Homo sapiens: one gene and its partners. The protein of the gene in region 3 purifies or fractionates together with the protein of the main gene of each other region. This does not show direct contact. Each region holds a gene or a part of one and is shown on either strand. Other genes may lie near its edges. The genes, in order: IRF2BP1, CCNY, CCNL2 and ULBP3.

Region 1 (7,321 bases), on a different chromosome or scaffold from region 3:
AGTAATGGGCCCCCCCAACCCCTTTCTCTGGTACAGTGCTGTCTGCCTGGCTGCCTCCCTTAACCCTGACTTCTAAGCCATCAATTTCATGTTATTTATTATTGCCCTATGTGGGGTGGGGAGGGAACCTCTCGGGTCTGCACATCTCCCCTTCCCTAACAGTTCCTGTTCTTGACTTGAAGAGAATTGACCCGTGGGGGACTCCCCACCTCCCCAACCCAGACTTTGGAGCGGGTGGGAGTTGTAAGACAAATCAAAATACGGATGACAAAGAGGATATAGCCGTGTATACCCCAGGGAGAGGAGGCGCCGAGTTCTGATGGGAGAGGTACAGGTTGGGTTCTCTGCCTACCATTGCTGTCTCTGACTTCCAGAGCTCAACCCCCTCCTTTCTCCCAGTGGTGACAAGATATCAATAAACTTATTTTTAATACAATTACTTGAGGCTCTGTCTGAGACAGGCCTGGGGGACCAGCACCTACACCTGCCCCGCCCCCTCCACAGGCAGGCAATTGGGAGGCTGGTGGTTTTCCAGCTTTTTTTTTTTTTTAATTCTTAAAGCCATCAAGTCTTGTGTTTACATGAAATCTTATTCCTACTCTTCCTTTAGATACCAGTCTAAATGTCAACTCCAGGAGAAAGTCCTAGATTCCTTCCCCAAGGCTAACGTGGGTTTGCCTCTTAGAGTCTCTTTCAGTGTCCTGTGGTTCTTTTTCTTTTTCTTTTCCTTTCTTTTCTTTTCTTTCCGTTTTTTTGAGATAGGATCTCGTTCTGTTGCCCCAGCTGGAGTGCAGTGGCATGATCACAACTCACTGTAGCCTCGATCTCCCAGGCTGAAGCAATCCTTCTGCCTCAGCCTCCCAAGTAGCTGGGACCACAGGCATGTGCCACCATGCTCAGCTAATTGTTTTATTTTTCTAGAGATGGGGTTTTCTATGATGTCCAGGCTGATCTGGAACTCATGGGCTCAGGCAGTCCTCCCACCTCGGCCTCCCAAAGTGCTAGGATTACAAGCATGAGCCACCACACACAGCTGGGTTCTTTTTCATAGTGACTCTAAATGAACACAGGCCTTTATCTATTTAAGGCACATTTGCCCATAATGTCATGAAGGCAGGAACTGGTTCTTTTACTCTGCTGCAGGGCCAGGTAACAAAGTAGATAATCACCACCACTCTGGACTCAAGACGTGGCTCAAGTACTGGTGCTGCCCTGGCCAACTGTGTAACCATTGGCTTCCAGTGTCCTCATCTGTAGAATGGACATAAAGATGTCAGAGTCTTTCTTCCTATAATTAGATTATACTTTTCTTTTTTTTTTTTCTTTTTTTGAGGTAGAGTCTCCCTCTGTCGCCCAGGCTGGAGTGCAGTGGCGCGGTCTTGGCTCACTGCAACTTCTGCCTCTCGGGTTCAAGTGATTCTTCTGCCTCAGCCTCCCAAGTAGCCGGGACTACAGGCGTGTGCCACTACACCTGGCCAATTTTTGTATTTTTACTTATTTAGTTAGTTTTTTGTTTTTTTGTTGTTGTTTTTTGGTTTTTTTTGAGACGGAGTCTTGCATCTGTCCCCCAGGCTGGAGGTGCAGTGGTGTGAACTCATCTCCTGGGTTCATGGAATTCTCCTGCCTCAGCCTCCTGAGTAGCTGGGATTACAGGTGTGCGCCACCACACCTGGCTAATTTTTGTACTTTTTAGTAGAGATGGGGGTTTCACCGTGTTGGCCAGGCTGATCTCGAACCCCTGACCTCAAGTGATAGGGCTCCCAAAGTACTGGGATTATAGATGTGAGCCACTGCCACTGTCCGGCCTAATTTTATTTATTTATTTTTTTTTTATTTTTATTTTTTGAGATGGAGTCTCACTCTGTCGCCCAGGCTGGAGTGCAGTGGCTCGATCTTGGCTCACTGCAAGCTCCACCTTCCGGGTTCACACCATTCTCCTGCCTCAGCCTCCCGAGTAGCTGGGACTACAGGCGCCCACCACCACACCTGGCTAATTTTTTGTATTTTTAGTAGAGACGGGGTTTCACCGTGTTAGCCAGGATGGTCTCAATCTCCTGACTTTGTGATCTGCCTGCCTCGGCCTCCCAAAGTGCTGGGATTACAGGCGTGAGCCACCGCGCCCGGCCCCCTAATTTTTTAATTTTTAGTAGAGACAAGGTTTCACCATGTTGGCCAGTCTGGTCTCAAACTTCTGACCTCAAGTGATCCGCCCTCCTCGGCCTCCCAAAGTGCTGGAATTACAGGCATGAGCCACTATGGCCAGGAAAGCTTTTCCTGACACACATTCCCCACCGCAGTCATCACAAATTTTAGTTCATCATTTGAGTAAATTTACTATCTGCCTCCATCACCAGGCTGGGGCTTCTCAGGGGCAAGGCTTAAAGCCTGTCTCAGTCACTGCTATGTCCCCAGCATTGCCCAGCATGGAAGAGGGGTTGAATATTTGAATAACTGTCCAGCTTAAAAACAACTTCCATTTGTGGCACTTATTTTCTGTGCCAGGCACCAAGCTAAGCATTTATATGCATGTTTGCATTCAATCTGAAGGTACCCAAATAAAAGGAGACTGGAGGGGGTCTCCATTTTTTCCAAGAAGTTTAGAAACTGGCCCAAGGCCACAGCTGGTCAGAGGCCAATCCAGTCCACCTGAAGGCTGAATCTGGCCAGAAGCCTTAACTCCCATTAGTGTTTCGTAAATAATAGCCCAAAGGCAACTTTAAGTGACATATTAATGTCCTCTTGAATGAGTCGATAGTTTTCACTAATTTTTTTTAAGGTAACCACAGTACATGAAACCCATGATTGTGAACGTATTACCTAGGATGAGGCAAAAATAGATAAATCTTTTTATTTTTATTTATTTTTTTGAGACAGGATCTTGCTCTGTTGCCCAGGCTGGAGTGCAGTGACGCAATCATGGTTCACTGTAGCCTGTTATCTCCAGGCTCAAGCAATCCTCCCACTTCAGCCTGATAAATCTTTTTTTTAAGGGAGAAAAGTGTTCAAATACAGGTAGTAGACAAAATTGTGAAACCATTTTAAAATTGTGAGGTCTGGGTAACAGAATCAGAGCTGCTGCGGTTCCAGTGGGACGGGAGGAGAAGGGACAAGCAGCCCCTCACTAGACAAAACCAGGGCCAACTGGTACGTCATTCAAATATTTTTGAGCACCTAACACGGACCCAGGCCTAGAGAAAGGGGCTGTTGTGGGTTGGAACCTGGAGACCCGCCTCCGCCCTTCCCCAAAGACAGCCTCGTCCAGTTCCCAATGCCTGGGAAAGAAGAAGGGTCCTCACAGCCTGATTGGGCCTTCCAGGTAGTGAGCGCTCAAGGTTGGGGAAAGGTTGGTCTGGTGTTTGCCCTTCCCCAGCAACTCCCTCCTCTTGCCCGTCACTTCTTAACCCCTTACTCTTCCCTCAAACTGGGGAGCAACAGAAGATAAGGGTCCCCCAAACGCCACGCTCCGAATGCACGTAAAGAGCCCCCAGAAAAGTGGGGGGGCGGGGGGTAGCCGGGAAAGTAGCGTGAATCTGGAAGGCCTCCCCAAACCTCCCAGAGGGCGGAAGTGCGTCACTATGTCCGACCCGCAGTGCATTTTGGGAATTGTAGTGAAGCGGGTGGGGGACGCCGAGCCCCCGATGGTGTAACCCTTTAGAGACCAGAGCGCGCGGGCAGAGCTGGGACAGGGTTAGAGGGCGGCCAGTCGCCCCACTCTTTTAGCAGAGAAACAACTGAGACAAGGCTCTGGCTCGGAAGCCCTTAGTCCTCTCCCTTCTCTGGCTGTGGCGGGCCCCAGAAGCATATATCTAGGATTCCGGGGGGAGGACGAAGTGCCAGGTGGCCACCCCCACCCCCACCTAGTTGCCAGCTTCCCGTCCCTGCTCTGAAGCCAATCAGGGCTTCTCCGCCCCGCCCCAGAAGCTGCTACTTTCCTAATCCGTCATTGGCCCACCTTTGCTGGGCGGGGAAACTGAGGTTCAGAGAGGGCAAGACATTTTGCCTAAAGCTGCACAGCAAATCCGAGCAGAAGTTGGAAGCCCGGAAGCCTGTCCACCCACCCCCACAATTTCTGAATCCGGAGTAGCTCTGATCATTTGTATTGCATCCTCGCCTACCACCTTTGTGTCCCAGCATCTTGCGGCGCGCTGAACTCCGGCCCCACGGAGAAGGTTGTAAGGTTTGCGCCGGCAGAGGCGACAACCCCCCCAGCCCGCGTCTGCCCGCCGTTCCCTTTAAGAGCCGGCCCCGGCGGGACTACGTTTCCCAGAAGGCTTTGCAGGCGTGTTATGTAACTTTCCCTGCGAAGCGGCCTCTGGGGCAGAAGAAGGAGGTGGAGGCGGCGGCGGCCGTTGCAGCGGCGGCGGCGAGAGCGGCGGGAGCCCGAGGCGGCGGCGCTCGCGGCCCATCGTGGGGCCCGAGCTGTGCGCCTCGGCTCGGAGCCCGGACCGGGCGGGGGCGCCGACGTGCCTCAGCCTGCCTTCGCGAGGGAGGCGGGAGTGAGCAGAAAGGCTTAGGGCCCAGGGGGCGGGGAAGGGGGGCCGGGCCTGGATCCGGCGGGGAGGCCGAGCCGGAGGCCGGACCGTGGCTCGCGCTGTCCCCGGGACGCGGATCGAACGTTGGCGGCGCGGATCGCACGTCGGCGGCCGGTGGAACGCGGGAGCTGGGCGGCGCGCGGACTGGGGCCATGGCGTCTGTGCAGGCGTCCCGCCGCCAGTGGTGCTACCTGTGCGACCTGCCCAAGATGCCGTGGGCCATGGTGTGGGACTTCAGCGAGGCCGTGTGTCGCGGCTGCGTGAACTTCGAGGGCGCGGACCGCATCGAACTGCTCATCGATGCCGCCCGCCAGCTCAAGCGCAGCCACGTGCTCCCCGAGGGCCGCTCGCCCGGGCCCCCGGCCCTTAAGCACCCGGCCACCAAGGACCTGGCGGCGGCAGCCGCACAGGGGCCCCAGCTGCCGCCCCCGCAGGCCCAGCCCCAGCCGTCAGGGACCGGCGGCGGCGTGTCGGGCCAGGACCGCTATGACAGGGCCACATCATCAGGCCGCCTCCCCCTGCCCTCGCCCGCCCTGGAGTACACTCTGGGGTCCCGCCTGGCCAATGGGCTGGGCCGTGAGGAGGCCGTGGCTGAGGGGGCGCGAAGGGCCTTGCTTGGCTCCATGCCTGGCTTGATGCCCCCTGGGCTGCTGGCAGCTGCAGTGTCTGGCCTGGGAAGCCGAGGCCTGACGCTGGCACCCGGCTTGAGTCCTGCCCGTCCCCTCTTCGGCTCCGATTTCGAGAAAGAGAAGCAGCAGAGGAATGCGGACTGTCTGGCAGAACTGAACGAGGCCATGCGAGGCCGGGCAGAGGAATGGCACGGGCGCCCCAAAGCAGTGCGGGAACAGCTACTGGCGCTGTCCGCCTGCGCCCCGTTCAATGTGCGCTTCAAGAAGGATCACGGGCTGGTGGGGCGAGTGTTCGCCTTCGATGCTACTGCCCGTCCTCCAGGATACGAGTTCGAGCTGAAGCTCTTCACCGAATACCCCTGTGGTTCCGGCAATGTGTACGCCGGCGTCCTGGCAGTGGCTCGCCAGATGTTCCACGATGCTCTGCGGGAGCCGGGCAAGGCACTGGCTTCTTCGGGCTTCAAGTACCTCGAATATGAACGCCGGCATGGATCAGGAGAATGGCGGCAGCTGGGCGAGCTGCTTACCGACGGCGTCCGCAGCTTCCGCGAGCCAGCTCCCGCGGAGGCCCTGCCCCAGCAGTACCCAGAGCCGGCCCCTGCGGCTCTCTGTGGCCCACCCCCGCGAGCCCCATCCCGGAACCTGGCGCCCACGCCGCGCCGTCGCAAGGCATCCCCCGAGCCGGAGGGCGAGGCGGCTGGGAAGATGACCACCGAGGAGCAGCAGCAACGGCACTGGGTGGCACCCGGCGGCCCGTACTCCGCTGAGACCCCTGGTGTGCCCTCGCCCATTGCCGCCCTGAAGAATGTGGCCGAAGCCCTGGGCCACTCACCCAAGGACCCTGGCGGAGGCGGGGGGCCTGTGCGTGCAGGGGGCGCCAGCCCTGCAGCCTCCTCCACGGCCCAGCCGCCAACCCAGCATCGCCTTGTGGCCCGCAACGGCGAAGCAGAAGTCAGTCCCACAGCGGGGGCCGAAGCTGTCAGCGGGGGTGGCAGCGGCACTGGGGCGACCCCTGGGGCCCCCCTGTGCTGTACCCTGTGCAGGGAGCGGCTAGAAGACACCCACTTCGTCCAGTGCCCCTCGGTGCCCGGACACAAGTTCTGCTTTCCCTGCTCCCGGGAGTTCATCAAGGCGCAGGGCCCGGCCGGGGAGGTGTACTGCCCGAGCGGAGACAAGTGCCCGCTGGTCGGCTCCTCCGTGCCCTGGGCCTTCATGCAGGGCGAGATCGCCACCATCCTTGCTGGAGACATCAAAGTTAAGAAAGAACGGGACCCCTAGGCTACCACTGCCTCCAGGCTACTGCCCTCTGCCCCTTTGCCACCCACCGCTGCCGCGGATAAATTATTCCCTCCCCGACCCAGCCCAGTGCCACCTCTATCTGTGTACATACTCCCTTCTTCCACCCAGATGGGTCCCCTGGGGTAGATGCATTGTGGGTGGGGGGAGAAAGCTTGTGGCTCCTGTCCGAGGGGGTGTTTGGGGTCCCTTGGCCCCTCCAGTTTCCCTCTGTCCTCCTTGGCTTGGCTTTGCTGCTGCTTGTAGTTGGGGGAGAGGTGCCCCCCTCCTCCTTGAGAAGGGACCTCCTGAAAACTCGCTCTTTATAAACGAGGCAAAAGCATTTAATTCCCACCCCCCCACCCCCCGCTCCCTTCTGCTCCTTCAATAAACCGAAAGATGGGTTTTTTTTTTCCTTCTTGGTCCCTTAGTTGTGTGAGATGCTGCGCCCCCTTTGGGACTGAACTGGTCCTGCGAGGGCGAGGACGTTGCGCGGTAGCCTCCAGGTGGCGCCCTGCACCCAGGCGGTCCCGCCGGCCGACCTTCAACAAGTGCGACCCACTGGTCACGTTTCAGCCATCGGCCCGTTTTCCAGATAAAAGTACTGAGGCTCAGAGAGGGGATGGCTCCTGCAGGGGAGCCACAGACAGGCTTGGGAGTAGATTACCCTTCTGTAGCTGACCCATCCCCTATCTCTACCTGGAAGGTGGAGGACTCAGCGCCTACGTGGGGAGGGGAAAGAGGCAGCGGGAGGCTTCCTAGAAGACATGGGCAGTGGGTTCTTGCCGGGTAGAAGGGAGAATTTAGGGTAGACTGCTAGAGGGACTGCCCGAGGAAAGAGGAAATTTACCTCCACGGGGTAAACTAACAGGATGCCTAGAAACA
Region 2 (7,020 bases), on a different chromosome or scaffold from region 3:
TGATTGTTAGGTTATTAGTAAACATTTTAAAACTACATTTTAAGAATCATTGACTCTAGTATATATCAAAAGCTGAAGTACTCAAATACCATATTTTTTATGTCCTGAAAAACATCCCACCCAGCTGGTTTAGAAAGGTTTGAAGTTCATGGGTCTTCTATGATAGGTTAGTGTCTTTAAATCACAGAGATATGACATATGTATCCATGCTTTCTTCCCTTTGTCACCAGGCACATGAAGGGGTAATACTTGTCCTGTAGAATTTCAGTAATTTTAGTGTCTGGGAACTTAGGTGTCTATGGTGCTTAATGGCAACTTAATGTGTCTTTTTGCTCAGTTTATCTTAGTGTTAGGTTATTCATGTTTTTGAAATTGATATTGGACTCATGCTTTCCAGGTATTATTTCTTATAAAATCATTCAGAGATTGAGAAAAAACAGCAACACATAACAACAATAGTAATCTTCAGAACAATTCTTTAGGAAAATAAAAAAATGATAGTAATAATTGCAGCCTATGTATTACTTACTCTGTAGCAGCTGTCACCAGCTGCCGCTCTAAGTACTTGGATTCCATTCATTTACTTAGAACTCACAGTAACCCTATGGGTAATATTACCCTTACTTTAAGACAAAGAAATGAGTCACTGAGAGGAGAAATGACTTGTCCAAAGTCACACAGCCAATACATGGCAAATGGAAACTTTCCATTGTTGCTTGACTTAGCCATCAAACGTTAGCTAGTCTGGGGTTGCCTTCTGGGATAGGGTGTCTTGTCATTGCAGTCATATCCATACTTTCTCAAGGATAAACTTCTTCTGTCTGCAGCAGTTATTCAGTCCAGACTTCCAGGATTAGATTATTTCTGTGGGAGGAGAAAGGGAGGGAGGGACTAAAGAGAATTTAAAATGTGAGGAGACCAAATAAATCAGGATACTTGTAACAGCTGTACCATAGTGTCCTTGTAGGGTTTTACCTTAAAATGGTTGATGGCAACTTCATTCTTTTTTTTTTTTTTTTTTGAGATGGAGTTTTGCTCTGTCACCCAGGCTGGAGTGCAGTGGCATAATCTTGGTTCACTGCAACCTCCACCTCCCGGGTTCAAGCAGTTCTCCTGCCTCAGCGTCCCAAGTAGCTGGGATTACAGGCATGCGCCACCACGCCTGGCTAATTTTGTATTTTTAGTAGAGATGGGGTTTCTCCATATTTGTTATACTGGTCTCGAACTCCTGACCTCAAGTGATCTGCCCGCCTCAGTCTCCCAAAGTGCTGGGATTACAGGGGTGAGCCACTGCTCCTGGCCCACTCTTTTCATTTTTATAGTTTACCTGTCATCCTTGACAACTCACTTTCTCCCTCGTCCTGTATCATATCTGGTAGGAAAATGTGGCTCTCTGCCCTCAGAATATATCAGACTTTGACCACTCTCAAGACCTCTGCTGCTGCTCTTCTGGAGATTTAAGCAGCTGCCATCTCCCCCAGCCCACCTGGTCTCCCTGCTTCCACCCTTGCCTGCTCCAGTCTGTTCTCGACACAACAGCCATGGCTAAGATCCTTTAAAAAACTTGAACTTATTCCTTCACTCAAAAACGGCAGTGACTCGTTATTGCACAAGTAAAAGCCTTACAGTGGTCGCTGGGGCCCCTTGGGATCTGCCTGCCATCAGCTCACTCAGTCGCTTGCTCATTCCAGCCACATTGGCCTCCTTCCTTGCCCTTCCTGGAACATACCAGACACAAACTTCCACCCCGTTCTCTCCCTCTGCCTGAAGTGTCCTCCATGTGCTCTCTTGGCTGAGTCCCTTTATCACCTGCAGCCTTGGTTCAAGCCTGACCTTTTCAGGGAGGCCTTCCCAATCACCTTTAAACATCCTTTCTGCCGCCCACTGGCAATCCCAATGCATATTCCCTGCACTCCTGTTTCTTTATTCCTTAACACTTTATGATATACTATATAAGTATAAACATAAATACTAGCTACTAGCTACTAGCATGTAAGTTCCAATAGAACATTTATTGTTTGGTTCACTGATGTAACCAAGTGCCTAGAGTAGCACCTGATTCCTTGAAGATACTATAAATATTTGTTGAATGAATTTGTTGAGTGAAACCAACCATTGAAGGATGTGAATGAAAACATCATCGCGTATGTTTATTGGGTGAGGGGAAACAGGAGGCAAGGAGAATGAAGAGGACTTGTAATAATGAAAGTAGCGTGGATGTGAAACTTTTTGGCTTTGTAGTTTAACCTGAGAGGTAGCAGATAGGGTGAAGTACTGAAAATGAAACTTAAAGGTTTTAAAGCTTAAAAAGAAAAAAAGCATACCCAGGCTGAAAGGAAACCTGGCTAATGGGAATCTGTTTAATAATGTGGTATGTTTAGTCTTTTTTCCTTGTTTCTTTCAACGAATGACTTTAGCTGTGGCCTTACATCCTTAAGGATCAAATTGAGACTCAAATGCTCAATTAACCAAAAAATACTAGATGAACATCTGCAATTATGAACATAGTCACTTATGTTGATTTTCTTGTCTGAAACATGAAGTGTCTAATGGGATATAGGTACATGGTGTTTTGGCTGTCTACAGCCAGAGAAGCTAGAAGCCTCAGGGACTCATCCCAAGCAGCGGAGGGATAACTGGCAAAACTGCTTGCCGTTAGAAGAGTGGGGACACAGGGCAATTTGAAATCTAAGTGCCTGTAGGATGAGCTTGCATATTGCTCTTGGCTTCCTTGAGTCTCTACAATCTATTTAACATCACCTCTGCAGCACTCTTTCTTGAATCTTGGTCCCACATTAACATTACCAGCCCTGGTGGGCAGAACATACCGTGGACTTTCTTTCCAGGCTAAGACTTATCAGCCCTGCTGTCTGCAAGGTATGTGGAGACACCCCGACCAAGCATGTGACTTCATATTAGTTAGCAGTGTGGAGAAGTGCAGTTTAAAGATTTGTCAAGAGAGCCATTCTCCATAGCACTGACCATGGGTCCATGACCTGTCTCTGCTTACTTTTCATGTTTCTCTTTCACTTAGAATCAGGGAGTCGTTTGCTTCCACACACCCATTTTACAGGTGGGAAGACTGAATCTCAGAGAGGTGTAGTTTCTTGCCCAGGTCATGCAGATCATGGATGATGGTAGTAGAATTTACTTTGTTAATTTTCGGCCAACAACCGTGCTAATTACTTGACCTGTATTGTTTTTCTTAGTCTTCTTATCATTCTCCCCATTTTCTAGGTGAAGAAATTGAGCCTTAAAGGTTAAGGCATTTGCGGAAGGTTCCTCAGTTTGTTAGTGGCAGCTGGGGTTCGGTCTGCTGTCAGCTTGCCTCCATGCCTCAACTGCCCTGTGACAGCTAATTAGAGAATGATCCGTGTCTAGAATCTGAACCTCCTGATGGCCTGGCCCAGCCCACTTTGTTTCAAGAGATTCATAGTTATTGCCTATATGCTTTTGTCTAGCAATATTTTGTGTAAGGACTTTTACTTTCCTGCCTGCCTTTTTTTTTTTTTTTTTTTTAAGACAGGGTTTTACTCTCTCGCCCTGGCTGGAGTGCAGTGGCGCGATCTTGGCTCACTGCAACCTCTGCCTCCCAGGCTCAAGTAATTCTCCTGCCTCAGCCTCCCGAGTAGCTGAGATTACAGGTGCACGCCACTACTGCCCAGCTAATTTTTGTATTTTTAGTAGAGATGGGGTTTCACCATGTTGGCCAGGCTGGTCCATATGATCCACCCACCTTGGCCTCCCAAAATGCTGGGATTACAGGCATGAGCCACTGCGCCCAGTCTCCTGCCTGCTTTTTGAGAGTAATGAAAATTAAATAATTCCATGGAGTGGTAGATTTTCTCACCTTCTCACCCTCCTCTACAAAGCTGATGGTCTTTTTTTTTTTTTTTTTTTTTTTTGAAACGGAGTTTCGCTCTTATTGCCCAGGCTGGAGTGCAGTGATGCCATCTCGGCTCACTGCAACCTCCGCCTCCTGGGTTGAAGCAATTCCCCTGCCTCAGCCTCCTAAGTAACTGGGACTACAGGCACGTGCCACCACGTCCGGCTAATTTTTGTACTTTTAGTAGAGACGGGGTTTTGCCATGTTGGCCAGGCCGATCTCAAACTCCTGACCTCAGGTGATCTGCCTGCCTCTGCCTCCCAAAATGCTGGGATTATAGGTGTGAGCCACAGTCTCCGGCCTGATGGTCTTGCTTTTACATTTCTGGCTAGATGAAACTAATGCAAGGATTAAATTTATTTCTATCCAGCAAGGGGCAGAACCAAAAAATACCAAGAAGCAGGATATGTGTGTGGCTTTGAAATTCTGTTTTAATCACATAGGGTCAGAGATTTAGCTCCAAGTGTGTCACATTGGATTGACTTTGAGGAAACAGTGCTATTTTTCACAAGAGGGCTATTGACAGTATCATACTTGTCACACTTCAAAGTGTGAATCCTTTCATGATTCAACATTGGGCTGTGAGGGTAGGTCCCCAGCAATGACAGTTGATGTAAGTCCCTCATCCTTTCAGTATTATTTCCAGTTTATAGCTGGAAGAAGGGTGAGAGTTCACTTTCCCTGCAGCATTTCTCATCCTCTTCAGATGTTGAGTAGTTTGTTGCTTGGAGCCTTGGTCAGGAGACCATTTCTTCTCTGATTCTCAGCATTATTCTAGCCTGTCTTTCCTGAAGAAAGGAGAGGCTCAAGGAAGGTAAAGTCAGAGAAGGCTCTTCTCAGGGGATTTATAGGGTGTGCTCCCAGCTCTGTGAAGTATGGTGGAGGGCAAAGAGAGGAAGCCTTGTAATGGGAAGACCCGCATTCCAGATGAGGTTCTACTTTTACTGAGGGGCCTCCGTCCTGCTGAGCCTCACCTTCCTCTTCTGCTTAAAAAAAGTGCTTAAAAATACTGCCTTGCCTTGGGCTGGGCGCCGTGGCTCATGCCTGTAATCCCAGCACTTTGGGAGGCTGAGGCAGGCGGATCATGAGGTCAGGAGATCAAGACCATCCTGGCTAACATGGTGAAAACTGGTCTTTACTAGAAATACAAAAAAAATTTTTTTTTCAGTTGGTATACTTTATTTCTTTTTTACTTTTTAAATTATACTTTAAGTTTTAGGGTACATGTGCACAATGTGCAGGTTTATTACATATGTATACATGTGCCATGTTGGTGTGCTGCACCCATTAACTCGTCATTTAACATTAGGTATATCTCCTAATGCTATCCCTCCCCACTCCCCCCACCCGACAACAGGCCCCGGTGTGTGATGTTCCCCTTCCTGTGTCCATGTGTTCTCATTGTTCAATTCCCACCTATGAGTGAGAACATGCCGTGTTTGGTTTTTTGTCCGTGCGATAGTTTGCTGAGAATGATGGTTTCCAGCTTCATCCATGTCCCTACAAAGGACATGAACTCATCATTTTTTATGGCTGCATAGTATTCCCTGGTGTATACGTGCCACATCTTCTTAATGCAGTCTATCATTGTTGGACATTTGGGTTGGTTCCAAGTCTTTGCTATTGTGAATAGTGCCGCAATAAACATGCATGTGCATGTGTCTTTATAGCAGCATGATTTATAATCCTTTGGGTATATACCCAGTAATGGGATGGCTGGGCGAAATGGTATTTCTAGTTCTAGATCCCTGAGGAATCACCACACTGACTTCCACAATGGTTGAACTAGTTTACGTCCTACCAACAGTGTAAAAATGTTCCTATTTCTCCACATCCTCTCCAGCACCTGTTGTTTCCTGACTTTTTAATGATTGCCATTCTAACTGGTGTGAGATGGTATCTCATTATGGTTTTGATTTGCATTTTAAAAAATTAGCTGGGTGTGGTGGCGGGTGCCTGTGGTCCCAGCTACTCAGGAGGCTGAGGCAGGAGAATGGCGTGAACCCAGGAGGCGGAGCTTGCAGTGAACCGAGGTAGCGCCACTGCACTCTAGCCTGGGTGACAGTGAGACTCCATCTCAAAAAAAAAAAAAAAAACTGACTCGCCTTACACATTGAGGTAGTACTATGAGGATCCAAATGAGGCTAAAATGCTTAAAAAGCCACAAAGTACTAGATGAACTTATGTCATTATGAATGTGGTACTCATATTGATTTTCTTGTATTATATGTGAAGTGTGCTCCAGTATCTCCACCTAATTATGTTTGGACTGTCCATAGTTGGAGAAGCTGGAAGCCTAAAGAGCTTATCCTAACAAAGACATCAAAGCAGGCTTCAAGGCAGTCCCAGAGCATAACTGTAATTTTAGAGCTGGGTAGGGTAAGGTTATATAGAGCTGTCTGACCTTTGAGTGGGATGCTTGCTGGCTGTAGAATTTGGAATAGAAATACTATTTCTCAGATTCATTACTCTTCTGAGTTGCATCTTTCTGAAGTCAGTGTGATGCCACACAGGAGCAGTGGGATGAATATTTGAAGAAGCTTTCCCTGACTCCTGGGGTAATGGAACCCACCCAGGCTGTCTGCTAACTGTGTCCCCGGAACCACATTCCTAGGAATGTCAGCATGCACCCTTAGGTGTAAGCTGGAGCCAGGGCTTGCTTGCTTGCTTATTTATTTATTCAAAGAATAGGATTTTGAGGCATGCATAAATATGCTTTATTATATTAAAATACTGCTTTTTAATAAAGGGTAGTTGGTTACCTAAAATAATAAGATCAAGCGTTCCTCAGCAGGTTATTAGGGGCTGTTGTTCTCATTTCTTTTAGGAAAGGAATCTAACTGGCTAGACCCACAATTGCAGGGAGCTCAGGAGATACCCCACCCACCTTTTCTTTCTTGCTGTTGGCTCTGTGTGTTGCTGGTAGCTGTTGCTAGGCTCTCTGTCTCCCTTTACTTTTTCTAGGGGCTTCCTTTGCTATTTGCCAGCTTGGAAAGAAGGGTGTGCTAAAGCTAAAATTGAGCATGTCAGCCTGGCAAGTCACATTGGTGGATCCCACACATCAGCAAGATTTTGCCTGTAAAGTCTCTTGATGACTCTGGCAGAAGAGGTCATTTCAGGGGTTGGCCAACTCC
Region 3 (7,020 bases):
CTGCACTCCAGCCTGGACGACAGAGCGAGACTCCATCTCAAAAAAAAGAACTGCAGACAGGCCCTTTGCATCACACTGAACTCTAGGTCTGATGACGTGTATCATCTATGGCCCCACACTATAACACCTTCATCAGATGACAAGCTACCTGGGCAGCAGGATAAACAAAAGCATTTCAGACAACCTGTCATACTCCCTGCTAATCAACAGAAAGGCCAGGTGCCTATGCTCCTAGCACTCTGGGACGCTGAGGCAGGACAATCACTTGAGGCCAGGAAATTCAAGAGCAGCCCGGCCAACATAGCAAGACCCAGACTCAACTAAAAAGATAAAGAATTAGCTAAGCACAGCTGGGCACGGTGGCTCACGCCTGTAATCCCAGCACTTTGGGAGGCTGAGGTGGGCAGATCACGAGGTCAGGAGATCGAGACCATCCTGGCTAACCTGGTGAAACCCCGTCTCTACTAAAAATTCAAAAAATTAGCCAGGCGTGGTGGCGGCCACCTGCAGTCCCAGCTACTCAGGAGGCTGAGGCAGGAGAATGGTGTGAACTCAGGAGGCGGAGCTTGCAGTGAGAGGAAATTGCGCCACTGCACTCCAGCCTGGGCTGGAGCAAGACTCTGTCTCAAACAAAAAGAATTAGCCAAGCATGGTGGCATGTGCCTGTAGTCCTAGCTATGCAGAAAGCTGAGGTGGGAGGATCACTTGAATCCAGGAGTTGGAAGCTGCAGTGAGCTGCGATCACACCACCATACTCCAGCCTGGGTGACAGAGACCCTGTCTCAAAAAAAAAAAAAAAAAAAATGTCTGGAAGGAGCACATACCCCAGAATGGAGGCGGGGGAGAGTCACCAGTCTTTGCCTTTGTGGGGAGTGGATTCCTGCACTCTAACAGACTCACCCAGCTTGGGGGCAGGAGAGAACCCCGAGGTACCATCCAGCACCTGTGTGCCCCCAGGCAACAGGCCCCGGGCTTGGGCCTTTGCCTCTTCGATAGCGTGCTTTCTTTTTTCCACTTCACCCTCCAGGTGTGTGAGATCAACCTGCAAAAGCCAGAAGGTGTCCGTTCAGAACCAGGTGTTTCTGGCCAAACACAAACGCATACGTTACATGAAAAAATGCCGAAGAACCTTTTTCCGAGCATAAAGCTGCAAGATCTTTAAGCAGATTTCCTGAATTTCTTCTTCAGTTGCTCCAAACAAAAGAAACCAATGGGGACGATTGGGCAAAGGGATCTGTAAAAACAAACACTATCATCATTACACTTTCCTCAACTTCACGGCCAGCAAGACTCAGGACAATTAAAAAACAGCCTGTTGGTCACGAAAATGCTTTGGCCCAGATTAGAGTAATTTGAAGAATAACACAGTAAAGTTTACTGGAGGCTGGAGAAAAAAAAATCAGACTAGAATCTCTCCATAGTAGCAACACACTGACCTCCAGCGTCCGGGCAGCAAGATAAATGCAGGCACAGGCGATGCTCTCTGGCTGGAACCGCACGAAGACGTCGGTGCGAAGGCTGTCGTTCATGTAATTCCTGGAAGCCAAACACAGGAAGAACTGCAATGCCCCACCCGGGAACCCAGGTCTTCCGCCTGCATTATCTAGAGAAAATCTAGATAAACGTACTACTCCTCTAAGGAGTCTATTGCTAGGACTCAGAGCTAGACAGTCCTGTGAATCTCAAGAGTTAATGGAGAAATATTCTAGCTGCTTTTTCTAAATACAGTAAATACAGGACAGAAAGGCACAGAAATTATTAGAAAAAAAAAAAGCTGGCTGAATGTCAGACAATACGTGTTGCTATGAAAGAGAACCGACTTTAACTTTACTTTTCCCCTCAACCTTGGCCTGCTCTCATGCAAAGCACGATGCCTCAGAAAGAAAATGTCTACTGGAGTCACTAAAACGCTTTTGATTAAAGAAATCTAAATGCTCAAAATCCATAGTGCAGAGAAACATGCAAACTCAAATGAACTGGCTGAGCACAAAGCCGGTGTGGCTGCTGGGAGACAAGCCATCCTCTTGGGTTCCTCTTCCTCTTCCTCCAGGGCGCTGGCGGCAGGCCCCTTCTCTGCTGACCGAGCTGCAGCTTCCTTGAAGGAGTCCACTTGGAAGAGGGAAAAGCCCCTTGGGTGCAAGTTGGACGCGTGGGAGCATCGTGCGGAGGGAGACTCCGCACCCAAGGGCAGGCCTCTTCTCGGGCTCATCAGAGCCGCTGCCAACTGTCCCATTTCAACAAGGGGTCTTAAAATGAACATTCATAGAATCAGAAGCAACACAATACTGAGAAGCAACATGATACTGAGAAGCAACATAATACTGAACATTTCATCACAGTACATTCTTTAACTTTCATATTTAGAAGCTATAAACATACAAAAATTTACATTTTTTAAAAGTTAAAGCATTTAAAACCTGGCTACATTTTGAGCATTTCCTTTAGATCTCTAAGATTTAATAGACTAAAACCAGACCTTACACTAGCTTTATGAATACTGCAAAAACAGAAAGGGTGATTCCATGAGGACAGTTGAACTGGTTTTATATTTACTGCTCCTCACATACCCCAATAACGGGGAGCCTTGGAGTGGGGCTGCACCCGCAGACGAGGTGGGTTGTGAGGGAATCTGACCCATGACCTTCCAGCAATATCTCTGTCCTAAATAAACCTTGGAGAAGGTAACATACAAACCCACTCAAGAGATTTCTAAATGGGAAGTCCTACAGGTGCCTCTTGGAGACACCCGGCTCTGGAAGCAGCTCCAGGCATCACGGGGGAATCTGTGTGGCGGCCGTGTGGCCCCAGCCCCTGATGCAAGCGTGCCAGTGCACAGCTCTAACACAGATACATTCAACAATCAGTAACCTTTCGGTGTCTAATCAACAACTGTCAGTATTCAAGTAGTGATATTAATCCACGAACTTAAAATTCTTAAAAACAAATGAAATCTTGAGAACATATAAACTTATTGCTGTATTTGAAGTGATACAATATTTTTCAAAGTATCCATGAAATAATTTAAAGATGCACACCTTTTACCAGAGCGTGTCATGCAAAGCTGCTCAAAAGAGCAACTTCAGGGCTTCTAGAAATCATGACATAACCCCACACTGACACAGCCAATTTGTCTCTTCAATTCTCACAGCTTTCCATAGCATTTTTTTTTAAGAGAAAGGTACTGCATCTTTATCATACAGGTACAGCAGTTTTAAAGGGACAAAATTCAAGTCAAGACAGTTACCAACTCTAATCAATACGATTACCAAAGCACGACAGAGGATTAACAAGAAGCACAATCGTCAGAGAACCACAGCAGGAGTCGGCCATGGCTATGCTATGTGCGTACCACCAGTCTAGAGCCAGCCTTCGGTGGAGAGCCTGCACTGGATTGGCTGAAGATGCCGCTGTCCCTGCACCAAAGCGCTTGGACAGCAGAGGAGAAGTCTTAGTCACTTACCCTCAGAGGCTACCCTTTGATTGAAAGAGTACAGAAAAGAAAAGTCAAAATAGGTTCTCTATTAAACATGTCATAGCACCAGACAATTCAGTCAGCAAAAATATGACCCTTACAGACTTAACTCCATGGGAAAAAATTCACCAGAATCCCCAGAATCCCCCAAATACTACATTGCACTTTAGGGTTCCTTTCTAGCACATGCATTGCTAAAATCGGCCCCAGAACCTTCTCTGCCCCTCTCCCATGGGATGCAATGTCAGTGGAGAAACAGACCAAGTCTGCACTAGCCTGTCCCTCCACCCTCCCCAGGAAAAGGTCCCCCTGCGCCAAGTCAACAGCTCCCAGAGGAAGCCCACTGACTGCTCTCTTCAGGGTGGGGGACACAGGAAGTCCAGGCTTGCAGGGAGGGGACGGGCCACCTACCGTGACTGCCAGTGCCCATTTTGGGAGTCTGATTGGAATTTATACAGCAGGAGCACTGGGCACTCGGACAACTCCAGCCCACAACCAAGTCACTGGGCTGCCTACCCACTGCCCAAGTGCCTCAAGTCAACACATTCCTGCACTGCCCTTGCTGGTCTCATAAAACAAGGAAGCTCAACTCACCATGAGGTCTGGACCAGGTGTTGGTTACGCTCACACTCTAACACCTGAAGGTACATAACGATTATCTGGAAGATACGGGTCAGGCAGTTATTACCAAGAACCTTAAGAGCCCAGAATTCAGATCTTGTGGGTGTCCATGCAGCAAACAAGAGCCTCAAGCTAGATCCCAGGAGTGGCTCCTGGCCACACGTCTGGCGGACGGCTCAGCTGGAGGGAGCTTTGCGATTGCACCTGCTGTCTGCCTTGGCAGCCAGGCAGGACGCATGCCCGTGAGCCCAGCCACACAACCCACGGCACAGGCCTCGTTCTTCATGGGGCTGGTTTCATTCTAGTCTTCAATGCCTTTCCACCAGTGAGGTTGGCCTGTCCTACACGTCTCTGTATCCCAGTTAACAACTCACCAAAACACAATATGAACATACTTTCAGCAAACAGAGAAGAACACTTCAGGCCAGGCACACTGGCTCATGCCTATAATCCCAGCACTTTGGGAGGCTGAGGCGGGCAGATCACCTGAGGTCAGGAGTTCGAGAACAGCCTGACCAATATGGAGAAACCCAGTCTCTACTAAAAATACAAAATTAGTCAGGCATGGTGGTGCACGCCTGTAATCCCAGGTACTCAGGAGGCTGAGGCAGGAGAATCGCTTGAAACCAGGAGGCGGAGGCTGCATGAGCTGAGGTTGCGCCATTGCACTCCAGCCTGGACAACAGAGCGAGATTCCGTCTCCAAAAAAAAAAAAAAAGCACTTCAATCTGTGGTGGGCAATTTGTGGATAATTTGAACAGATGGCAGAAAGCCGAACAAGCAGATGAGGAAACCCACCAATAAAAAGGAGATGGAACCAAAGATGGAAACAATTTTTTGGGAAAACAAGTGCTTTGTTTCCATGTGACACAGAAGGCACCCACAACGCTGGGAGTGAGGGACCGTGTCACGGCCATGGTCCTCAGTCAGTACATGCCGCAAAACTCGCCAGTCATTTCAGACTAAAGGGGCCAGAATTCCCCTAATTTCTCCATAAGAGAAAGTAAAGCTATCACTAAAGCAAATGTAGAAAATTAACTGTTGAGGCTGGGTGCAGTGGCTCACACTTGTAATCCCAGAACTTTGGGAGGCCGAGGCAGGTGCATCACCTGAGATCAGGAGTTTGAGACCAGCCCGGCCAACATGACGAAACCCCATCTCTACTAAAGATACAAAAATTACCCAGGTGTGGTGGCGCATGCCTGTAATCCCAGCTACTTGGGAGGCTGAGGCACAAGAATCACTTGAACCTGGGAGGCAGAGGTTGCAGTGAGCCAAGATTGCACCACTGCACTCCAGCCTGCATGACAGAGTAAGACTCCGTCTCAAGAAAAAAAAAAAAAAAAAAAAAAAAGGCCAGGCACAGTGGCTTATGCCTGTAATCCCAGCACTTTGGGAGGCCAAGGTGGGAGGATCACGAGGGCAAGAGATGAAGACCATTCTGGCCAACATGGTGAAACCCCGTCTCTACTAAAAATACAAAAATCAGCTCGGCGTGGTGGCACGTGCCTGTAGTGCCAGCTACTCAGGAGGCTGAGGCAGGAGAATGGCTTGAAGCCGGGAGGTGGAGGTTGTGCCTCCACTGCCACTGCCACCATGCCACTGCACTCCAGCCTGGCGATAGAGCGAAACTCCATCTCAAAAAAAAAGAAAACAAAAAAAAATTAACTGTAGAGAAAGGAAAACATAAACTAAAATTCAACATTTATAAACTCACCACTATTTTTGAAAGCCCAAACTTAAATAATACCATTTCCAAAACACTTAAAAATGTGTTACTAAAATAAACAGCTGACACTAGAAGACGAATACGTCAGGAACTATTCTTGAGATTATAAATAGAAACTGGAAAGCCAAGTCAGGGATGCACTCAGTCCTCTTCAGAGCCTTCAACTGCACTGAGGTGGAGAGAGGCGGCCAGGCAGGAGCAGCGGCCTAGGCGGGCTCGCAGGGCAGGAGCCGCACACCCACCTTATGAGGATGCTTCACATGGACGCAGAAACCCAACTCTTTGAGAACTCGTCTTTCCGCCTTTATAATTTGGTTCTTTAAATTAACATAATCTTGATCCAGTAGTAGAGGCACGGGCTTCCTGCCAGAGAGAGAGCACAGGGTCTGCACCACAGTCAAGCAGAGCAAGGCTTCTGAGATCCCGTCGTTACCTCCAACTATGAGCACCTAACACAAACCCCACAACACAACATCGCTATGAAGTCCACATCCTCTGATGAACAAAACTGCACACCGCTCCCCACAGCCCAGTGCCAACCTCCTCATCCCTTCCCAACGATCCCTCCCTGCTTTTCCTTATAGATCAACAGCTTCTGGTGCACAAGCATAGACCGAACATAGCAAGTTTTAGGATCTCGTGGCACAAATGCTAAAGCACTTTATGTGACTCACGATAGGAAGGTACATATTCACAGTTCAATAACCACAGAACCAATGAAAGCACAATTATTTAAATACAGATGGGCCAGGTGCAGTGGCTCTGCCTGTAATCCCAGCACTTTGGGAGGCGAGGCAGGCAGACTGCCTGAGCTCAGGAGTTCAAGACCAGTCTGACCAACATGGTGAAACCCTGTCTCTACTAAAAAAATGCAAAAATTAGCCGGGCGTGGTGGCGGGTGCTTGTAATCCCAGCTACTCAGGAGGCTGAGGCAGGAGATTCACTTGAACCCAGGAGGCGGAGGTTTCAGTGAGCCGAGATCGCATCACTGCACTCCAGCCTGGGTGACACGGTGAGACACAGTGAGAGTCCGTCTCAGAAAAAAAAAAAAAAAAAAAGGGCTGGGTGCAGTGGCTCACACCTGTAACCCCAGCACTTTGGGAGGCCGATGAGGCCATGTTTTTTCTTTTTTTGAGATGGAGTCTCACTCTGTTGCCCAGGCTGGAGTGCAGTGGCGCGCTCTTGGCTCACTATAACC
Region 4 (7,955 bases), on a different chromosome or scaffold from region 3:
CCTCAATAGCGAGAGAAACACAGGAGATACGACAAGAGAACCGAGGAGGACAAGTGACTAAGGAATCTATTCCAGATTACTGTTATTTCACAACAAGGGGAAATGTGAAGTTAGGATCACAGAAACAAAGAAGTGTAGCTAAGAATAACCGAGAATTACAGCTAGGAAAGATATCAGGAAAATGGGGCTGGAGGTGGCACACGAAAGGGATAGGAAAACATGCTGAGACTTCTAAAATTAGGAATAAAACAAAACCAATAATACCAATAAATGTGACACATATTGGTATGAGTCATAGGTTAAGGGCAGCCACCCTGAGAAGAAAACTAGAATGTATAACTTTTAAACCAACAGAAAAAAAACCCTCAGTATACTAAATAGAACACAGTTACGGAGGGGAAATGCCAGCAATAAAAAACACAATAAATACATGTGCACCAGGCACAGTGGCTCACGCCTGTAATCCCTGCACTTTGGGAGGCCAAGGCAGGAGGATCGCTTGAGCTCAGGAGTTCAAGACCAGCCTGGGCAATATAGGCAGACCCCATCTCTACAGACAAATATAGAAAATTAGCCCAGTGGGTGGCGCATGCTTGTAGTCCTGGCTACTCGGAGGCTGAGGCAGTAAGATGGCCTGAGCCCAGGAGTTAGAGGCTGCAGTGAGCTATGACCACGCGGCTGCACTCCAACCTGGGCAACAGAGGAAGACCCCATATCTTAAAAAAAATAAATAGATAGGCTGGGCACGGTGGCTCATGCCTGTAATCCCAGCACTATGGGAGGCAGAGGTGGGTGGATCACAAGGTCAGGAGATTGAGACCATCCTGGCTAACAAGGTGAAACCTCGTCTCTACTAAAAATACAAAAAAAAAAAAAAAAAAAAAAAAAAAAACTAGCTGGGCGTGGTGGCGGGCGCCTATAGTCCCAGTTACTCGGGAGGCTGAAGCAGGAGAACGGTATGAACCCAGGAGGAGGAGCTTGCATCAAGCCGAGACCGTGCCACTGCACTACAGCCTGGGCGACAGAGAAAAAATAAATAAATAAAAATAAATAAATAATAAATAAAAAAGATGGCAGAGCTAAATCCTAAACAGTAGTAATTACAATAAAAGTGAACTACTAAACTTATCACATAAATCACTGAAACTCCCAGGTTGGATTTTAAAATATCAAATAATATACACTATTTTCAAAAGACAATGTTAAATGTAAAGATTAAAAATAAAACGTGCTGTATCTGCGAAGAAAGGCTACTTTTTAATTTTTTTTGTATTTGTTTCTTTTAGCGACTACAATATGCTTTATTGTTCTTAGAAAGGACTCAGGGTTTGGCTTTAAATCAGGCTGCACGCTTTTCATCAGTCTCGCATCGCTCTCCCCATGCCAAGCTGGCTCTAGCTAGCAATGTCGCATTAAATCCCAGGGCAACCTTCAGGAACTTCCAGAAGCCTCCCCTCTCCTGACCCCCTGCAGTCCAAGACCCCCATATTTGCCCACACCCCTGCTTAGGGTCCAGCCCTAGAACTCACTGCCCCGCCCCAACCTGCCCTGGACCAGCCTGGCAGCAGGAGCAGAGGCTGGAGGCAAACACCCAACTTCGCGCCAGCACCTGTGCCACTGGGGACCAGGAGCCCAGGGTGTGACACACCCAGAGGAAGCAGAGAGCCGCTGCGTGAGTCACCCTGGCCCTCAAGGCTGTCACAGCTCCAGTAGCCCTGCCCCGCCCACTTGCAACTCCAGGCCATGGGGCAGGAAATGCTTGAATCCTTGCTACCTCTCAGACCCCAACCCTTCTTTTCTCCTCTTTCCTCCTGGCCCGGTTATCTTTTCCCATTTCCATTCCCACTTTCAGACTCGTTCTTTCTTTGCTTAAAAGGCAAGTATTTCAGCCATGCGCGGTGGCTCACGCCTGTAATACCAGCACTTTGGGAGGCCAAGGCGGGCGGATCATGAGATCAGGAGTTCGAGACCAGCCTAGCCAACATAGTGAAACCCCATCTCGACTAAAAATACAAAAAACTAGCCGGGCATGGTGGGGATGCCTGTAATCCTAGCCACTCAGGAGGCTGAGGCAGGAAAATCGCTTGAACCCGGGAGGCGGAGGTTGCAGCGAGCCTAGATCACACCACTGCACACCAGCCCGGGCGATAGTATGAGACAACGTCTCAAAAAAAAAAAAAGGCAAGAAAAAGACAAGATTTTCCTGGCCCTGGTGCACTCTAGGCTCAGTCAAACCAACTGAAGACAGCAGTTTGCTGTCCGTCATCACACTATGTTTTCTAGAAGATTCTATCCTGATGAAGCACCCCCCAGACTGGTTGAAAACCAAAGTTACTCTTCCTTGGAAAATCTTTGTGGACACCCAGGTGGAGATTCAAATTTCCAAGTTGGGGCCAGGCGAAGTGGCTCACGCCTGTAATCCCAACACTTTGGGAGGCCGAGGCAGGCAGATCACCTGAGGCCGGGAGTTCGAGATCAGCCTGGCCAACACGGTGAGACCCTGTCTCTATTAAAATTGCAAAAATTAGCCGGGGGTGGTGGCAGGTGCCTCTAATCCCAGCTACTCGGGAGGCTGAGGGAAGAGAATCGCTTGAACCCGGGTGGCAGAGATTGTAGTGAGCTGAGATCGTCCCATTGCACTCCAGTCTGGGCGACAGAGTGAGACTGTCTCAAAAACAAACAAACCGGAAAACAACAAATAAAACCCAACAACTAAAAAAGGCAAAAAAAAAAAAAAATTACCAACCTCGATGCTGCCACCTTCAGGCCGCTGGGGGTTACAACCTCCGCTCCAGCTCCCCTCTGAACCTGTGCTATTCTTCTGAGTCCCATTCACTCCCACAACTGTCTCATTCATTCACTGGTTCACTCAGCTTCCAACCACCCTTACATCACGTCAGGCTCACCAGGTGATGGAGAGAAAAATCATCCTCTGTGGGTCTGAAAAACATGCCTGAGTCTTGATGGTGGGTCTTGTTTTCATTTCCTCCCCATCACAGCGCCCCCAGGGCCATGAAGAGGCCATGGCCTGGGCTCAGAGATCCAGCTCTCCTCAGGGTGGGCCTGGCAGTTGCTGACTTCAGGGAGAGCTGGAGGCCTCACAACTGAAATAGGAGACCTGCCCTGGGTCCTTAGCATGTGCAAGGACAGGGTTCCTTGTAGAATCTGCTCATTTCATCTGTGTTCATAGCATTTGTCATTTTCCACATGCAGACATCCATTCCTAGAAAGCTGAAGAAGCTTGCACAGGAATATTCAGCCACAATATCAGCTGACTTCCATATCTGAATGCATGATCTCTAGATCCCGGCCATTACAATAACATTTGGGCCACTTCTATCCCCATCCTGGGCAGGCCTGAGTCTGTTGGCCAGATGCCTGCAGCAGGGGTGAGTCAGGAGGGCCCAGGTGTGCACAAAAGCCCCTCCTCCTGTCCTGCTTGGGGCTCTCCTGCCAGCCTCCTTCTACCTTCCTCCTGTTCCCCCAGTCACTGGCCCAGGTCACCTGGCCTCGGGGTGGTGCTGCCAGGGCCTTCCCAGAGGCCTCCTCCCAGGACTAACCTGGGCTCCTGCCCCCAGCCCTGTACATGGGAGGCTCTTCTCACACACAGATCCTGGGACCCGCCAAGCTCTGCCCCTCCCAAATCTGAGAACTGCCCACCCTTGTGTGTCTGTTGTCCTCCAAACTACCCTCCACATGGCCCCTCCTGCACAGGGGCTCTAGTGCATCAGGCCAGAATCTTCTAGGCTCCTGTGTCCCTGCTCAGTCACAGAGGTGGCTGCCCTCCCATGACTCTGTCCTGAAGCAGAAACAGGCCCTGGGCTTTGTCCAGGCCTCCTCCTCTTTCCCACAGCCTCAGGACCCTCGGGATTGATGATCACCAGGTGCAGGTGATCCCAACATGAAGACTGTACGGAGTGGGAGGTCTGTGCCGATTTTTCTCATTCAATAGGGAATGGGCTGAGTGGCTGGGGCCTGAGTGGCACTCAAGATCTCTGTCCACTCCTCATCCCAGGCTAAAGCCCTCCCTTGCGGCCAAGGGCCACTGGGCCCATCACCTCCCTCTGGCTTCTGCCCACAGATCTAGATGTTTCCATGGTGACTGAGACGAGGATACACTCGGGTTGCCGCTTTGAGGATGGCTGCAGTCACCATCCAGGGACAGGGCAGAGATGCGCGTGCAGCCATGGATTTGCGTGTAGCTGGCCACAGATGGGTGTACAGCAAAGTGAGCCCCACGCATGCGTAGACCCTCCCTCGGCTTCTGCTCTCCATGGAAACACAATTGATCATTTGATCACTGATCACGGTAGGCCACTAGGGCTTTCTTTTCTTTCTTTTTTTTCCCAGAAGTCATAAAGGGATATAGAATATACTTTATTCTATATATATTCTATATATTCCTCATGCTTTTAGTGGAGAGGCAAAGAAGGTCTGCTCCGGACTGGGAAGCAGCTGCGCCCTGGACGGAGAGGGGCGGGGACTCCTTGGCGCAGGCTGAAGGAGGGCAGGTGTCGCTGGCGGAGGCAGTGACGGGGGGACACAGCCGCCACTGGATATCCCTGTGCAAGTTTCTTCGCTTTCCTGTGCATCAGTGCTTACATTGGGGTAATAATAAATGGTGTGTTAAAAAATTAAATGAGGCGGTCAAGAAGGAATCGTGTCCTGGCCCGCGCGGAGCCTGGGGTGGAGGGTAAGGGTTGGCCAGAGGGGGCCGCTGTCAGGCCACGAGCCCGGGGCGGGACGAAGCGGAGCCACAGCAGGCATAGGCTCCCCGGGTCCCAGCCTGGGGTGGGGCGGGGAAGGGCGGGACGGGGCGGGATAGGGCGGAGCATCCCTCCAAACGTGGGCAGGCGTAGGCTCCCCTGGATCCCGGGGCGGGACGGGACCGGACGGGGCCGAGCACACTCAATCACTAGCTGGCATGCGAGGGCCGAAGTGATTCATACGCTGGTCTCCACATCGACTGCGCCTTGTGTCCCGGGCGCTCCTGGTCTACAATGGCAGCGGCCGCCAGCCCCGCGATCCTTCCGCGCCTCGCGATTCTTCCGTACCTGCTATTCGACTGGTCCGGGACGGGGCGGGCCGGTGAGTTCGGGGATGGAGCCTAAGCGGGGCGGGGGCCAAACCTGGGGGGCTGTGGACTGCAGCGGGTTTCAGAGGAGGGAAGCCTTCTAGAAGGACCGGCGCGATCTCCCCGGACTGCCCCCACGCTCAGTTCCGATTCGCTGCTCTTTTTCGCCAGGTCCGCTTCCTGCGGCTGCTGCTTGCCCTGCAGAGCAGGAGGGGGGTCAAAGAAGGCGAAAAAAGAACCGCAGGAGGGTGGAGGGGCCAAAAAGCTGCAGAGGGCGAGGTGGGGAGGGGATCCCTGGTGCAACCCCGCAGCCCCACTCGTCCTCGGGAAGGAGAAACCAGAGCCCCCGGAACCCGAGCTGGGGTCAAGACATGGGTGACGCCAGCGTCATATAGAATAGTCACTAAGCAGACAGGAGTCAGCAAACCCTTTCTAGAAAGGAAAGGCTGAAGGCACTTTGGTCCTTGCTGGCCGTGAGTTCTCTGTCTCTGTGTCAAGTCCCGTCCCTTTGTAGAGCAACAGCAGGCAATGGCAACCTGCAAGTAAAAGAGAAACCTGAAATGGACCCTGTCCTAGGTTGCAGACTCCAGATGAGGGCACATGCTGTGTCCTGGCAATTGCTGCCCCATCCCCTAGGGTGTCATCTCTAAGTTGTGTAAGTTGAAGAGTCACAAGTGTGTCCTACCCTGCCTGTGGCTTCTGGGAGGTGTGGATGTGATGAATGTGAGGGGGAGTCCCATGGTTCGGGGCCTACTGCTCCCCTCCTTTGTTGCTGAGTAGCATTAACGGTCCCCAGGGGCCATTCAGGGACCCTCCCTGAAGCCTCAGGTGTGACCTGAGGGTGGGGGGGTGTAGCCATGTGGTGTCCTGGGGATCAGAGCCAACTGCTTGTGCAGCTTCTTGGTTCCCTGTGGCCCTGCTCCTGCCCATCCCAGGAGACCCACCTGTGTCTTCTCACTGTGGGGCCTATCTTCCTAATGACCTAAAGGGTGAGGAGCACACCCTGTGATGGGCAGCTCTGAGGCTGTGTGGTCACTGCCCTCCCATAGCTGGAGGCCCATCTCCACAGGGGCCCAGGACCACAGCAGGAGCCACTTTTAAATGAGGGGATTTCACTGCTGTGAGTGGCACAGCTTTGCTTCTGAGCACTAGGGGACCCTGTTGGATTCTGTGGTTGGGAATAGCCATGAAATCCACATAGCACCTTTTCCAACCACACATGCTTCTGGGATCTTAGGGAGTCCAGGGTCAAATAGCTGTAGTGGCAGGTCCAGCCACACCCCTCATCACAGAGTGTGTATGGCTGCATCCCAGCTATAAGAGCAGAGTTGAGTAGTGACAGGGGAGGTCATATGACCAGCACAAACTATAATAGTTACTACATTAACTACAAACACTATCCATTCCCGGTAGAAATCCAGGAAATGTGAAATTACCATTGAATGGGTCTATGAACCCAGCACATCCCTCTAAGCTGGACCTGACACAGAAGTCCATCTGTTACTTTGCCCCAAATGCACCTCATGAGTAACAGGGGAGCAAGTTAATGCTTCACATCCCTGGGAAGAGCTCGGATCACACACTGTGTCCACTAGGAGTGTCTGAGTATTTGCTGTTTCATGGTGTACAGTTACCAGAGTGACTACCCATCTGGCTCTGTGGGGGAGGCTGAAGGAGTCATTGCAATTGCTGTGGGGTTGAAGGAGCCCACCAGGGGCTCTGGGCTCTCCTTCTAGTAATGGACTCTGCGTCTGAGATGTGGCTCAGTTCTCAAAGCTGGGCGAGGGAGCTCAGTTATTTCCCGGGGTGACAACTTTCAGCCTCCTGGTCATCCATCCTTGCATTTTGTCTTTGTGGTAATTATTTAAATCTAGTAGTATCCGGGTGGAGTCTCCATCTCTTTTGGATCTTGGACCCTTTTGTTCTATGAGCCATGGGCATAGCTTTGTAAGACTGAGGACCCCAGCTAGCATTGTGACTTCTCTAATTATTTCCATCATTGCACCCTCCTTCCTGCTGACAGTTGACGGCCTCCACTTGAGATCTCTTATTTCAGGATTTTCCATCCCCATTACTACTGGGAGCCCATTTCAGGAAGAGCATCTCCTACCCCTGACCCTGGGCTTCAGCAACAGGCATCCCTGAGCTTCTTGACAGTCTGCTGCCTTCTCCTGGGGCCTTCTTTATATGCTAGGTAAACAGGAGTCTTCCAGGCTTCCCTTGAGCACAGAGGGTGAACATTGTTCTGGATTTTCATACTGCAGTCACTCTGGCATGGGCACTTCTCTTAGTATTTTGTTCCTTCCTGTACAACCTGCCACGTAAGACCTGGGTTTTCTGTTTCATGCGGTGTGGGTCATTCCTTTTTCCAAGGTTCCAAGGGCAACCTACTAGCAGCTGACCACATTCCAGGGAACTTACCATGTCTTGTTACCCATAATAAATGAACTCATCCTTATCCAATGTTAACTACATCGTACCCACTGCACCACGCTCCAACATCCTCAGGGTGCCCTCCCACACTCTCCCGCCTCTTGCAGTCCACCTGGGCTGCTCCTGCAGATCCTGCCATCTAAGTCCTTCTTCCTGTAGTGGGCCTGCCACCTCCCTGGCAGGGTCCTGTGCTGACGGATGTGAGTATAGGCCTGGGCAGAGTGGGGAGATAGACATGTTAGCGACCCATGGTTCCTCCACAGGCAGAGACCACCGTCCAGGAAGAGAAATCCATGCTCTGCCAGCCCAGCCCTTCAGGAAACCCTCTTGCTGTCACAGTGTTTGGGGTCTTTCCCCCACCCCAACACTCTCTGGTGTTTTTTTTTTTTTTCCTTAGACGCTCACTCTCTCTGGTATAACTTCACCATCATTCATTTGCCCAGACATG

The links.
Region 1: the proteins of CCNL2 (region 3) and IRF2BP1 purify together in Homo sapiens (affinity purification with mass spectrometry; 3 studies listed by BioGRID and IntAct, with this or other methods). This does not show direct contact.
Region 2: the proteins of CCNL2 (region 3) and CCNY purify together in Homo sapiens (affinity purification with mass spectrometry; 3 studies listed by BioGRID and IntAct, with this or other methods). This does not show direct contact.
Region 4: the proteins of CCNL2 (region 3) and ULBP3 purify together in Homo sapiens (affinity purification with mass spectrometry; 3 studies listed by BioGRID and IntAct, with this or other methods). This does not show direct contact.

The regions. Positions count from the first base shown.
Region 1 is NC_000019.10:45,883,138-45,890,458, reverse strand, and holds IRF2BP1 (interferon regulatory factor 2-binding protein 1), read left to right. Parts: upstream 1-4,317; 5' UTR 4,318-4,684; coding exon 4,685-6,439; 3' UTR 6,440-6,851; downstream 6,852-7,321. UniProt on the Homo sapiens protein: Acts as a transcriptional corepressor in a IRF2-dependent manner; this repression is not mediated by histone deacetylase activities. May act as an E3 ligase towards JDP2, enhancing its polyubiquitination. Represses ATF2-dependent transcriptional activation.
Region 2 is NC_000010.11:35,339,502-35,346,521, forward strand, and holds part of CCNY (cyclin-Y), read left to right. Parts: intron 1-7,020. UniProt on the Homo sapiens protein: Positive regulatory subunit of the cyclin-dependent kinases CDK14/PFTK1 and CDK16.
Region 3 is NC_000001.11:1,389,330-1,396,349, forward strand, and holds part of CCNL2 (cyclin-L2), read right to left. Parts: intron 6,209-7,020; coding exon of another isoform or gene 6,186-6,208; coding exon 6,065-6,185; intron 4,132-6,064; coding exon 4,067-4,131; intron 3,476-4,066; exon of another isoform or gene 3,475-3,475; coding exon of another isoform or gene 3,453-3,474; exon of another isoform or gene 2,261-3,452; coding exon of another isoform or gene 1,968-2,260; exon of another isoform or gene 1,537-1,967; coding exon 1,437-1,536; intron 1,235-1,436; coding exon 1,130-1,234; intron 1,043-1,129; coding exon 901-1,042; intron 1-900. UniProt on the Homo sapiens protein: Involved in pre-mRNA splicing. May induce cell death, possibly by acting on the transcription and RNA processing of apoptosis-related factors.
Region 4 is NC_000006.12:150,066,112-150,074,066, reverse strand, and holds the start of ULBP3 (UL16-binding protein 3 precursor), read left to right. Parts: upstream 1-4,945; 5' UTR 4,946-5,000; coding exon 5,001-5,088; intron 5,089-7,904; coding exon 7,905-7,955.